2 separate regions of the Homo sapiens genome follow, and region 1 is linked to region 2. Evidence: fine-mapped expression QTL. A gene starts in region 2. The other region holds a variant in brackets. All regions are shown on one strand. Distances are between the middles of the regions.

What was found. PIP is the estimated chance that this variant, and not a neighbour inherited with it, causes the effect.
Region 1: its variant is the best candidate, but not a certain one, in a credible set for the expression of FLYWCH1 in whole blood (INTERVAL, PIP 0.60).

Annotation. Positions count from the first base shown.
Region 1 is chr16:2,863,595-2,868,969 of GRCh38, reverse strand. LOC101929566 (a long non-coding RNA gene) reads left to right here and starts at 766. Exons shown (of 3, transcript NR_188573.1): 1 at 766-878; 2 at 1,441-1,509; 3 at 2,114-2,622. RefSeq lists enhancers at 483-552, 563-742, 843-962. The variant G/A (reference allele first, on the strand shown) is at 3,101.
Region 2 is chr16:2,908,729-2,914,103 of GRCh38, reverse strand. FLYWCH1 (FLYWCH-type zinc finger 1) reads right to left here and starts at 2,173. Exons shown (of 10, transcript NM_001308068.2): 1 at 1,950-2,173. RefSeq lists silencers at 1,540-1,729, 1,703-1,802, 1,833-1,982, 2,003-2,312, 2,363-2,422.

The sequences.
Region 1 (5,375 bases), 45 kb after region 2:
CACGCCCAGCTAATTTTTGTACTTTTAGTGGAGATGGGGTTTCACCATGTTGCCCAGGTTGGTCTTGAACTCCTGACCTCAGGTGATCCACCCGCCTCGGCCTCCCAAAGTGCTGGGATTGCAGGCGTGAGCCACCGCGCAGGCGTCTACCTTTGTTTTTAATATAATGTATTTAATTGTAGGCTCATAAAATTTATTTTTTAACAATGACGTCAAAAAATGTATTTAACATCCAGCTTGCAAAACGTCTGAAAACTTAACCATGCGCTCATGCGCACTGTCTTCAAATGCGGTTTTTGACGGTGCCCATTTTACTTCGTCATGTTTGGGGCTTTTAGTGGTCGGGACACGCAAAGCCAGGAAGAGAAACGAGGCCAACGGGAGGAGCAAAGCCGGGCTCCAGTCCCTCACGCGGCCACCGGGGGGCGACAGACACAGGCCAATGAGCAGCTGGGGATCTGAGGCCCCCGGGCTCGGCCGCTGGGTCTCTTCTCCGCCCACAAGGAGGACTGAGACGCTTTTCCTGATATTTTGGGCGTGGCCCGTCACCGGCACCGTGGCAGGGGTCTGGGGCGCTGAGGGGCCGCTCCCCACCCGGACTTAGGTCCCTGGTATTGAAAACCAGCGCTGTCCATCCGCAGTGCCCCAAGTGTCCCCGGACACCAAGCTGGCTCACTCTGGCGGCCGCCATAACCCCTGCCCGGCAGCCTCTGCGGCCGGAAGTTGGCTCGGCCGGTGTTCGGGGCATCCCTCGGGCAGTTAACCGCACTTCCGCTGGCTGGGTATCCGCGGCAAGTTCAGATCATTAGTTGGCTGGAGTTAATTAACCACCAGACAATTAGCTTATCTTTTTCCCGATCCTAAGACCAGCTGGATTGGTGAGGAGGAACTAGAGACAACAGCTTCCTTCTGAGTCACCTTGAGGCAGCAGCCACTGGGGAAATGCAGGGAAGGACACTACCCAGGCTTCCTGGAGGGGTTGGCCCCAGGGCATGCCCTGCTTGGGCGGAAAAGCTTGGAGTTTAGATGAGGAAGCCTGAATTCTCCTCTAGACCTCCTGCCAACTCTTTGCCTGACCTTGGGCAAAACATTTAACTCTCTTCTGGGCCTTGGTTTCTTTAGCAAACACTGACGCCTGCTTCTCCGGCTCGCCCCCGCGCCCCACTCCCCCCACCGCTTTTTAAATGTTTATTATTTTTTTAATCATGGTTTTATTAGGTTGGTGCAAAAGTAACTGCGGTTTTTATCATTACTTTCAATGGCATAATAGAATGGGACTCTATTTGCTGCCAGATTGGGAATTCTAAGGGTATAAATATGTATTAATAAATATTATGACCTTTAAAATTTTAAAACAAATGCAAAACCTGCAGCATTTTTCGGGAATTGATTCTCTGTACATAAAAATGAGATTAGTCAATCCTTTTGGTGTCTGTTTAGCATACAATGAGTACATCCAGATAGTTAAGACCCTTGGAATCAAGATTAAGAGAACCATCAATTAAGGAGGTATGGTTGGTTAATTCTATACTTATTTTGAAAATAAGTTAGTTGGCCGGGCGCGGTGGCTCACGCCTGTAATCCCAGCACTTTGGGAGGCCAAGGTGGGTGGATCATGAGGTCAGGAGATCGAGACCATCCTGGCTAACACAGTGAAACCCCGTCTTTACTAAAAATACAAAAAATTAGCCGGGCGTGGTGGCGGGCGCTGTAGTCCCAGCTACTCAGGAGGCTGAGGCAGGAGAATGGCGTGAACCTGGGAGGCGGAGCCTGCAGTGAGCGGAGATCGCGCCACTGCACTCCAACCTGGGCGACAGAGCGAGACACTGTCTCAGAAAAATAATAATAATAATAATAAGTATAGTTAATTCTATACTTACTTTGGAAAACACCAGCTATTCAGCACGAATAGCAAAGACACCATGACTACGTTCTACTACTGTGGGACTGTAGTAGAACACTGACGCCTGCTTCTCCGGTACCCCCCCCGCCCCCCCTCCCCCGCCTTTTTAATGTTTTATTATTATTATTTTTTGAGAGTCTCACTCTGACGCCCAGGCTGGAGTGCAGTGGGGCGATCTCAGCTCACTGCTTTCCCCTTTCTTGTTGGCAGGCAGTGCGCACCTCTCCAGGGAAATTTACTCCAGTGCTTCATCCTACCTCATTGGACACAGCCGACCGTGTTGGTCCTGGTTCCCTCTTCAAATGCTGGCTCCTGGAAATAGCATCAAAGCAAGCAGCTGATAAGACAAAACTGGGTTGTTGCTTATGCTAAGGGGAAGCACCACCTTGAAAGAGTCATTGTAGAGTGGAGGTCGGGAGGGCAAAGTTGAGATACTGAGGTTTTGGGGTTTGGTTTAAGGCAGGTCCTTTGATGTCGGACTTAATCAGGGCTGGGTAAGGATCATGTTATAATAGTTTAGGATTGTTGGTCACAGTTTTGTATTGGTGGTCACAGTGAAGTGAGGGCTTCAAAGACTCTTGGAGCTTTCTTTGATGCTCCCTGTTGAAGAGCTGTGTGGTTTTATTAATGGATTTTCCTGAACTCAAGGAGTAAGGTTATTTGCAACTTTTGTGTTTCTGGGCAAGCATTTCCTGGAATAATAAAGTCACAATAATAGAGTCATGTTATTTTGCTTCAGCAATTGTGAGTCGGAGTACTCTGCTATTTGTATCCAGAGGCACCCTGTTATGGTTTCCTTGTGTGTAAAATGGGGATTATACTGCAGAGAGAAGGGGAGGAGCTGGGCATGCTTTGAGAAGACCAAAGTTTCAACGTATTGTAGGCTTTTGGTATTACAGCAATGTAGGGCTTACAAAAATGTCTGAGTCCTGGAAAATTATCCTTACTCTGAAATAGGAAATGGAGTTGCCAAGTTGAATTACATAGTTGTTTGTTAAATGTCTCCTAGACATAATTATGTCCACTGGTCCAGTGCAACTCAGAGCACACGGTTGTGGGTCCATTGCATTTATTCTGCAGAGGGAGGTGCATGCTCATGTGTTCGAAGCCATGTGATGGGGGCTTCAAAGCTGAGAATGCTCCAGGCTTATCAAGGTCTTAAAATGGCCCTGTGACTGGCCTTTCTACTTCCTTTCT[G/A]CTTGAGTCCTGGCCTTTCTACTTCCTAGCCATGTGAATTGGGATCAACTCCTCCCTCTCTGAGCCAATTTCCTCATGTGTACAGTGGGGAAGACAATGCTTGGGGCAGAATAAGAAGGGTGAAGCGAGGTGGTGTGTTGAGTATAGTAGCAAACAGTTTTTGGAACTGAGGCCCAGATGATCCCGGGGTGGCTTCAGCCCTGCAAACTGTGGATCTGGTACAATGTACCCTGAGAGAGACCATGGACCTATAGATAGCAAGTCTGTAAAGGCTCACAGTTAATCAGGTTAGGAGAAAGCAAGAGAAATGAGGATCCCAGCCCAGGGAGCCTGGGACTTATTCAGGTCAGTTTCTGCACTGACCCACATATTTAACAACCAGCTCTTTACAGGCATGAGACAATCAGAACAGTCTTGCTGGAGATGCTGGAGGCCCTGTGTGAAAACAGGCATTCACTCTTTAAGTGTTAGATTTTGAGGATAGTGGAGGGCCTGGAGCAGCTGGGCAGTAAGGGGCACCTGGGGACTTGGGGAAATGGCTGTTTATCAACCTACAGTTGACATTCAGTTTGGCTCTACCAGAGCTGAAAATCTGCCTTGCTTAGGGGAGCATGGGAGTACCAGGTGTGGGAGCAAGTGGACGTTGGTAGTACAGCCCTGGGCAGGGCAGGCATGGATGGGGGCCAGATTCTGATCAGTGAAGCACCCCTGGGCACTCCCTTGAACCTCAAGCCTGAGGTCAACCAGTGGGGCCTTGGCTCCCTGGGGCTCCTGGATGTTTGAGCAATGCCCCCCTCAGAGAACTTTCCTAAGTTTTCAGTTTCTCCCCTCTTTTGTGCTTTGGAAAATCCTTCCTCCTTCCTGTGTCTAGGTGTCTAGGTGAGGTATTTCCTGTCTTCTCTGTCCTCAAGCCACTGTTCTCCTCTTTTACAGCAGACCTTGACACCAAATCATTAAAAACCAAAAAACTAGTTCTCTTTTCTTCAAGGGCAAGAAAGACTGAGTTTCCAAGTCCTACCAGGATATTTGCGGAAATTTTTGGATCCTATTTTTCTATGGTAAAGATAGGGAAGAAAAACAAATCACATACAAGTTTTATCTCTTTTATTTAGTTTTTTTAGACGGGGTCTCACTCTGTGGCCCAGGCTGGAGTGCAGTGGCACGATCATAGCTCACTGCAACCGTGGACTCCTGGGCTCAAGCAATCCTCTTGCCTCAATCTCCCAAGTGGCTGGAACTACAGGTGTGCACCACTACACCAAGCTGATTTTTAAAAATTTTTATGTAGAGACAGGGTCTTGCTATGTTGCCCAGGCTGGTCTTAAACTCCTGGCCTCAAGCGATCCTCCTGTCTTGGCTTCCCAAAGTGTTGAGATTATGGGCGTGAGCTATTATGCCTAGGCACTACATAACTTTTCAAGAGTGTAGTTTGATAATATATGTCATCAAAAACTGTAAATACATTTAAAACCTTTATCCTAGCAATTTCCCTTCTAGGAATGTAGCTTGAGGAAATAACCAGAGATTCTTTCAAAGATTGATGAACAAGGTTACTTACTGACACATTACATACAACAGAAAAAAGAATGAATGTCCAGTATCAGAGGGCATGGGATTGAGTAAATTATGGTATATTGTTGTCTTAGTCTGTTTTGTGTTGCTCAGGTACAGAATACCTGAGACTGGGTAATTTATAATAAACAGAAATTCATTGGCACATGGTTCTGGAGACTGGGAAGTCCAAGATTGAGGGGCTGCATCTGATGAGGGCCTTCTTGCTGCCTCATAACATGGCGGGAGGCATCACGTGGCAAGAGAGCATATACATAAGAGAGTAAGGGGGTGGAACTCATACATTTTATCAGGAACCCACCCCATGATAACCAACCCACTCCCAAAATAATGGCATTAATCCATACAGGAGGGCATAAGCTTTATGACCTAATCACCTCGGAAAGGTCCCGCCTCTCAACATTCTTGCTTTGGGGATTAAGTTTCCAACACATGAACTTTGGGGACACATCCAAACCGTAACAATTCTATAGTGGAATATTATATAGACATTAATAATCATGTTATGAATGGTTTACTGATATGAGAAGATGCCATATTGAATTTTAAAAGCAGATTAAGATAATGTCACAGTATGATTCCAATAATATCCAAAAAAAAGAATATAATTTGTAGCTTGTTTTATTAAGTAAAAATTTATAAATGGTGTTTCACTTAATTCATCAATTGATTCAACAATATTGGGAGGCCACTAACTGACAGG
Region 2 (5,375 bases):
AGAACAAGGTGTTCAGCATCCAGGTGCAGTAGGGGTCCTGAGTGATAGGAGCGGGAGGAGGGAAGGCCCTCTGTTTAAAAAGCTTCTGAATGGGCCGGTGGCACGGTGGCTCACACCTGTCATCTCAGCAGTTTGGGAGGCTCAGGTGAGAGAATTGTTTGAGCCCAGGAGTTCGAGACCAGCCTAGGCAACATAGTGAGACCTGCCCCTCGCCCCCACCATTTCTACTAAAAAAATTTTTTTTTAAAGCTCCTGGATGACTCCAGTGTCTACCCACCTCCCACCTACCCGCAACTGAACCATGAGCGTTGGAGGTGCACTTGCCTCAGACATGAACCACTATGGTGACATCACAGGCTCAGTGGGTGCACACAGACATTCCTCCTGAAGAGGTTGAAGGTGGCAGAGATGCCCAGATAATTAAAATTTACTCTAAAAATGAACTTCACAATCTCAGCACCGTTGGCATTTTGGGCCGGATGATTCTGCTGTGGGAGGCTGTCCTGTTCAGCGTGGGGTGTTCAGCAGCAACCCCGGTCTCTACCTGCCAGATCCCACTGTCATGCCCTACCACACGTTGTGACCACCAACACTGCAGAACGTTCCCTGGGGTGCAGAATTGCCCAAGAGCCACAGCTCCAAAGCAACTTAGAAATTAGAGCGCACAGAAAGGGAGAGCTTGGCCAATGAGACCCCCCCAGCCCGGTATTCCCCAGTCACCCTCCATCATAATATAAGTTTATTTACTCCTTCCCACAGCCTAATGCATCCTCAAATCTCTCTCCCTCTATGCCTGATATACCCATCTTCCCTCTCCTTCCCACTCCCACCAACTCAGGACATGATCCCTTACCACGACCTCTTTAGCCCAAGCCAAAGCCTCTGAACGATCTTGCCAGCTTTGGCAAGCAGCCACTCCAATTCTCCACATAGGGTGCTGACAGGTCACTCTTCCTAAAGCTTAACTTTCAGCATGTCTCTCCCCAATTAAATCATCTCCATCTCCAGCCTTAGTGCATCATCAGCTGGGCGTCATAAACACTCCGCAATCTAGCCCCAACCTCAGCCTTGTTCCTTCCACACGTCCCGCCAGTAGCACTTGGGAAAGGAACAAGAGAAACATGATATAATCACACGAGAAAATCTAGATCAAGCCCTGGAAATCATATTGGCCCTTGGAAAGCAGAAATATGCAAATAAAAATAAGCCATTTCGTTGGAATTGGAGTTTGCACATGATTATCTGACTATGGGAGTTCAGCTTCCAGTACAAGGAATAAAGGAACAACAGGCAGGGTTTAGAGCGAGGGTTTCAACTACGTCAGACCCGTTATGTGCAGGCTCCATGGGTTAGCAGCAGCCTTTTGGAACGGGGTGGAAGAGAATGGAACGGAATTTAATCCGAACAGATCCAGCTGCGTCATGTGAGCTTAAACAAGCGTCTCCCTTTAAACTTGTGCTTCAGTCATCCAGACCCACAGGCACAGAGTACACGCGTAAAAGGCATTTCTCAGTGTCGGCTGTGGGTCAACAAAGTTCGAAAGCCGTCACCGGAGATCTATAGGGTCAGAAGCGGGAGCGGGGTGCGTCCCGACCCGCAAAAGTGCAAGGTCACTGGGACCGCCCGAGCTGCAACCGTGGGACGGGGCTGATGCTGCGGGTCCAGGAAGGCAGCGCTGGGCGGGGCAGACACCGCCAGGAAACGGCGGACGAGTGCGGGGATCCTTGATGTGGGGGTGTCGGGCTTAGGCCAGGGGACGGGGGGGTGGGGATGGAGGGGCGAGGAGCAAGGAGGGAATCGCGGGAGACCCCACAGGAGGCGGCCTGAGCGCCGGGACGCAGACCCCTCCCCAGCACCCGCAACCCTCGGGACCCCCGGGAGAGCCGGGCTGCGGGCGCGTCCACGCCGGGGACGCGGGACATTCCCCGCCCGCAGGGGCCTGTCCTCACCGACGGCAGCGGGGCCCTCCCTCTCCCGCGACAGCGCCGCGGCGGATCCTTCAGCCTCTGCCGCTGCAGCAGCGAGCGTCGACCCCGCGACCCAGGCCGCCGCCGCCACCCCGACCCGGGCACCAGCTCCCAGCCCCGACCTGCCCCTCGGGAGCGAGCCCCGTGACCGCGCGCGCGACCCCGCCGGGGAGCCGGCCTTGCGGAACGCTCAGGCGCGCTACTTCAGAGCATGCGCAGCAAGACCGCGCGGCCCGTTCCTTAGGTAAACCGCTGCTCCGGGTCTTCCCTGCGCGGCGCCGAGCCGCAGGCCTGGCCTGTCAGCGCATGGGGGCGGGGACGTAACTCACGGAAAAGGCGGGGCCATCCCGAGATTGGACGGCGGCGTCCAGGGGCGGAGCTAGGATGGGGGAGCTGAACAGGACGCTCTTGGCGTAAAGGGGCTGGGGTAGGGGGCGCTTAATTGAGACCCCAGGACGGTCCCCAGTATCTGAGGCTGCCCGCAGGAAACGGAGCGTTTGCTGAGATGCACTCTTGGGCCTGTCAGTTTCCTGACCCCGTGGGAAGGCGATTCTCATGCATCTCATTGACGCCCCCAGTGACCCTACCCCAGAGCGGAACCAGTGTGAGATTCAAATAAACAGCGATAGCAACGGATTATAACCTTGACTACGATATGAGTCCAAACTGAAGGAAATAAGTCAACGGGGGAGAAGGGACAGTTGTTTCTTACATCAGAAAGCCAACAACGACAAAAAAATACCTGGGCCGGGCGCGGTGGCTCACGCCTGTAATCCCAGCACTTTGGGAGGCCGAGGCGGGTGGATCACCTGAGGTCAGGAGTTCGAGAACAGCGTGGCCAACATGGTGAAACCCCGTTTCTACTAAAAATACGAACATTAGTCGGGCGTGGTACTGGGCGCCTGTAATCCCAGCTACTCGGGAGGCTGAGGCAGGAGAATAACTTGAACCCGGGAGGCGGAGGTTGCAGTGAGCCGAGACGGCGCCACTGCACTCCAGCCTGGGCGACAGAGTGAGACTGTGTCTAAAAAAAAAAAAGCAGAAATATTACATAGTATTACAAAGTCTGCATGACGTGTGATGTAACACATTGAATGTAGAAGCAGGTATGAGAGCCAGTAGTCTTCTTTTAAGCCCGCAACAAAGATATTTGCAAAAATGTATAACTATGTCACTCGTCTCACTAAATTTCTTTGGGAAAATATTGTACTTTTTCATAAAACTATGTTAACACAATCAGCTTACTATTTTTTGGTAAGATCTTTATTGAAATATAATTCACATACCATGCATTTCTCCCATTTAAAGTGTACAATTAAATGATATGTAGTATAGTCAGAGAGTTGTGCAAACAGCACCATAGTCAGTTTTAAAACCTTTCATCACTCCAAGAAGAAACCTTTAGCCACCACCCTCCAATTTGCTAATCACCCCAGCCCTAAGTAATATGATCTATTTTCTGTCTTTATAGATTTGCGTATTCTGCATATTTCATATAAATGAAATCATGCAACAAATATGTGGTCTCTTGTGACTGACTTCTTTCGCCTAGCCTTAGCATAGCACTTTCAAAGTTCATCCATGTTGGCCGGGTACAGTGACTCTTGCTTGTAATCCCAGCACTTTGGGAGGCTGAGACAGGAGCATCGTTTGAGCCCAGGAGTTTGAGATCAGCCTAGGCAACATAGTGAGACTCTTTCTCTACAGAAAAAAAGAAAAGAGGAACAAGAGAAAATTAGCTGGATGTGGTGATGCGCTGTAGTCCCAGCTACTCAGGAGGCTGAGGTGGAAGGATCACTTGAGCTTGGGAGCTGGAGGCTGCAGTGAGCTGCGCTCATGCCACTGCACTCCAGGCTGGGCGACAGAGCAAGACCCTGTTCAAAAATAAAATAGTAGCAGAACTTAATTACTTTTTTTTTTTCTTGAGATGGAGTCTTGCTCTGTCGCCCAGGCTGGAGTGCAGTGGCACGACCTCAGCTCACTGCAACCTCCATCTCCCGGGTTCAAGTGATTCTCCTGCCTCAGCCTCCTGAGCAGCTGGGATTGGGATTATTACAGACAGTTGCCACCACGCCCGGCTTTTTTTTTTTTTTTTTCTTTTTTGAGACGGAGTCTCGCTCTGTCGCCCAGGCTGGAGTGCAGTGGCGCCATCTCGGCTCACTGCAAGCTCCGCCTTTCGGGTTCACGCCATTCTCCTGCCTCAGCCTCCCGAGTAGCTGGGACTACAGGCGCCTGCCACTGCGCCCAGCTAATTTTTTGTATTTTTAGTAGAGACGGGGTTTCACCGTGGTCTCGATCTCCTGACCTTGTGATCCGCCCGCCTCGGCCTCCCAAAGTGCTGAGATTACGGGCGTGAGCCACCACGCCCAGCCCCTCCAGCTTTTTTTGAGAGGAGTCTGACTGCGATGCCCAGGCTGGAGTGCAATGGCGCTATCTTGGCTCACTGCAACCTTTGCTTTCCGGTTCAAGAGATTGTCCGCCTCAGCTTCCCCAATAGCTAGGACTACATGCGTGCGCCACCATGCCCGGCTGATTTTTGTATTTTTAGGAGAGACGGGGTTTCACCACGTTGTCCAGGCTGATTTCAAACTCCTGACCTCAGGTGATCTGCCCGACTTGGCCTCCCAAAGTGCTGGGATTACAGGCATGAGCCACCATGCCCGGCCAGGATGCTGTTTTTGTTTCTTCGTTTGTTTTGTTTAGTTTTTGAGACAGAATCTCCCTCAGTCGTCCAGGTTGGAGTGCAGTGGTGAGATCACAGTTCACTGCAGCTTCCATCAAACTCTTGGGTTCCATTGATCCTCTTGCCTCAGCCTCCCAAGTACCTGGCACTACAGGTGCACACCACCGCACCCGGCTAATTTTTTTTTTTTTTTTTTTTTTTTTGTGGAGACGGGGTTTCCCTATCCTGCCCAGGCTGGTCTTACATTCCTAGGCTCAAGTTATTCACCCGCCGCAGCCTCCCAAAGTGCTAACCACCACGCCCTACCTTTGGCACCCTTGTTGACAACCAATTGATCATAAATGTGGTTTGTTTCTGGATTCTTGATTCTATTCCATTGATGTATCTATTACTTATTTATTTATTTAGAAACGGAGTCTTGCTCTTCTTGCCCAGGCTAGAGTGCAATGGTGCGATCTTGGCTCACTGCCATCTCTACCTCCCGGGCTCAAGTGATTCTCCTGCCCCAGGGTCCCAAGTAGCTGGGATTACAGGCACCCACCACCACGTCCGGCTAAATTTTTGTATTTTTAGTAGAGACAGGGTTTCACCATGTTGGCGAGGCTGGTCTCGAACTCCTGACCTCAGGTGATCTGCCCTCTTGACCTCCCAAAGTGCTAGGATTACAGGCATGAACCACTGCGTCCTGCCTGTTATTCCTTTTCAATATTCTTTTGCCTACTCTG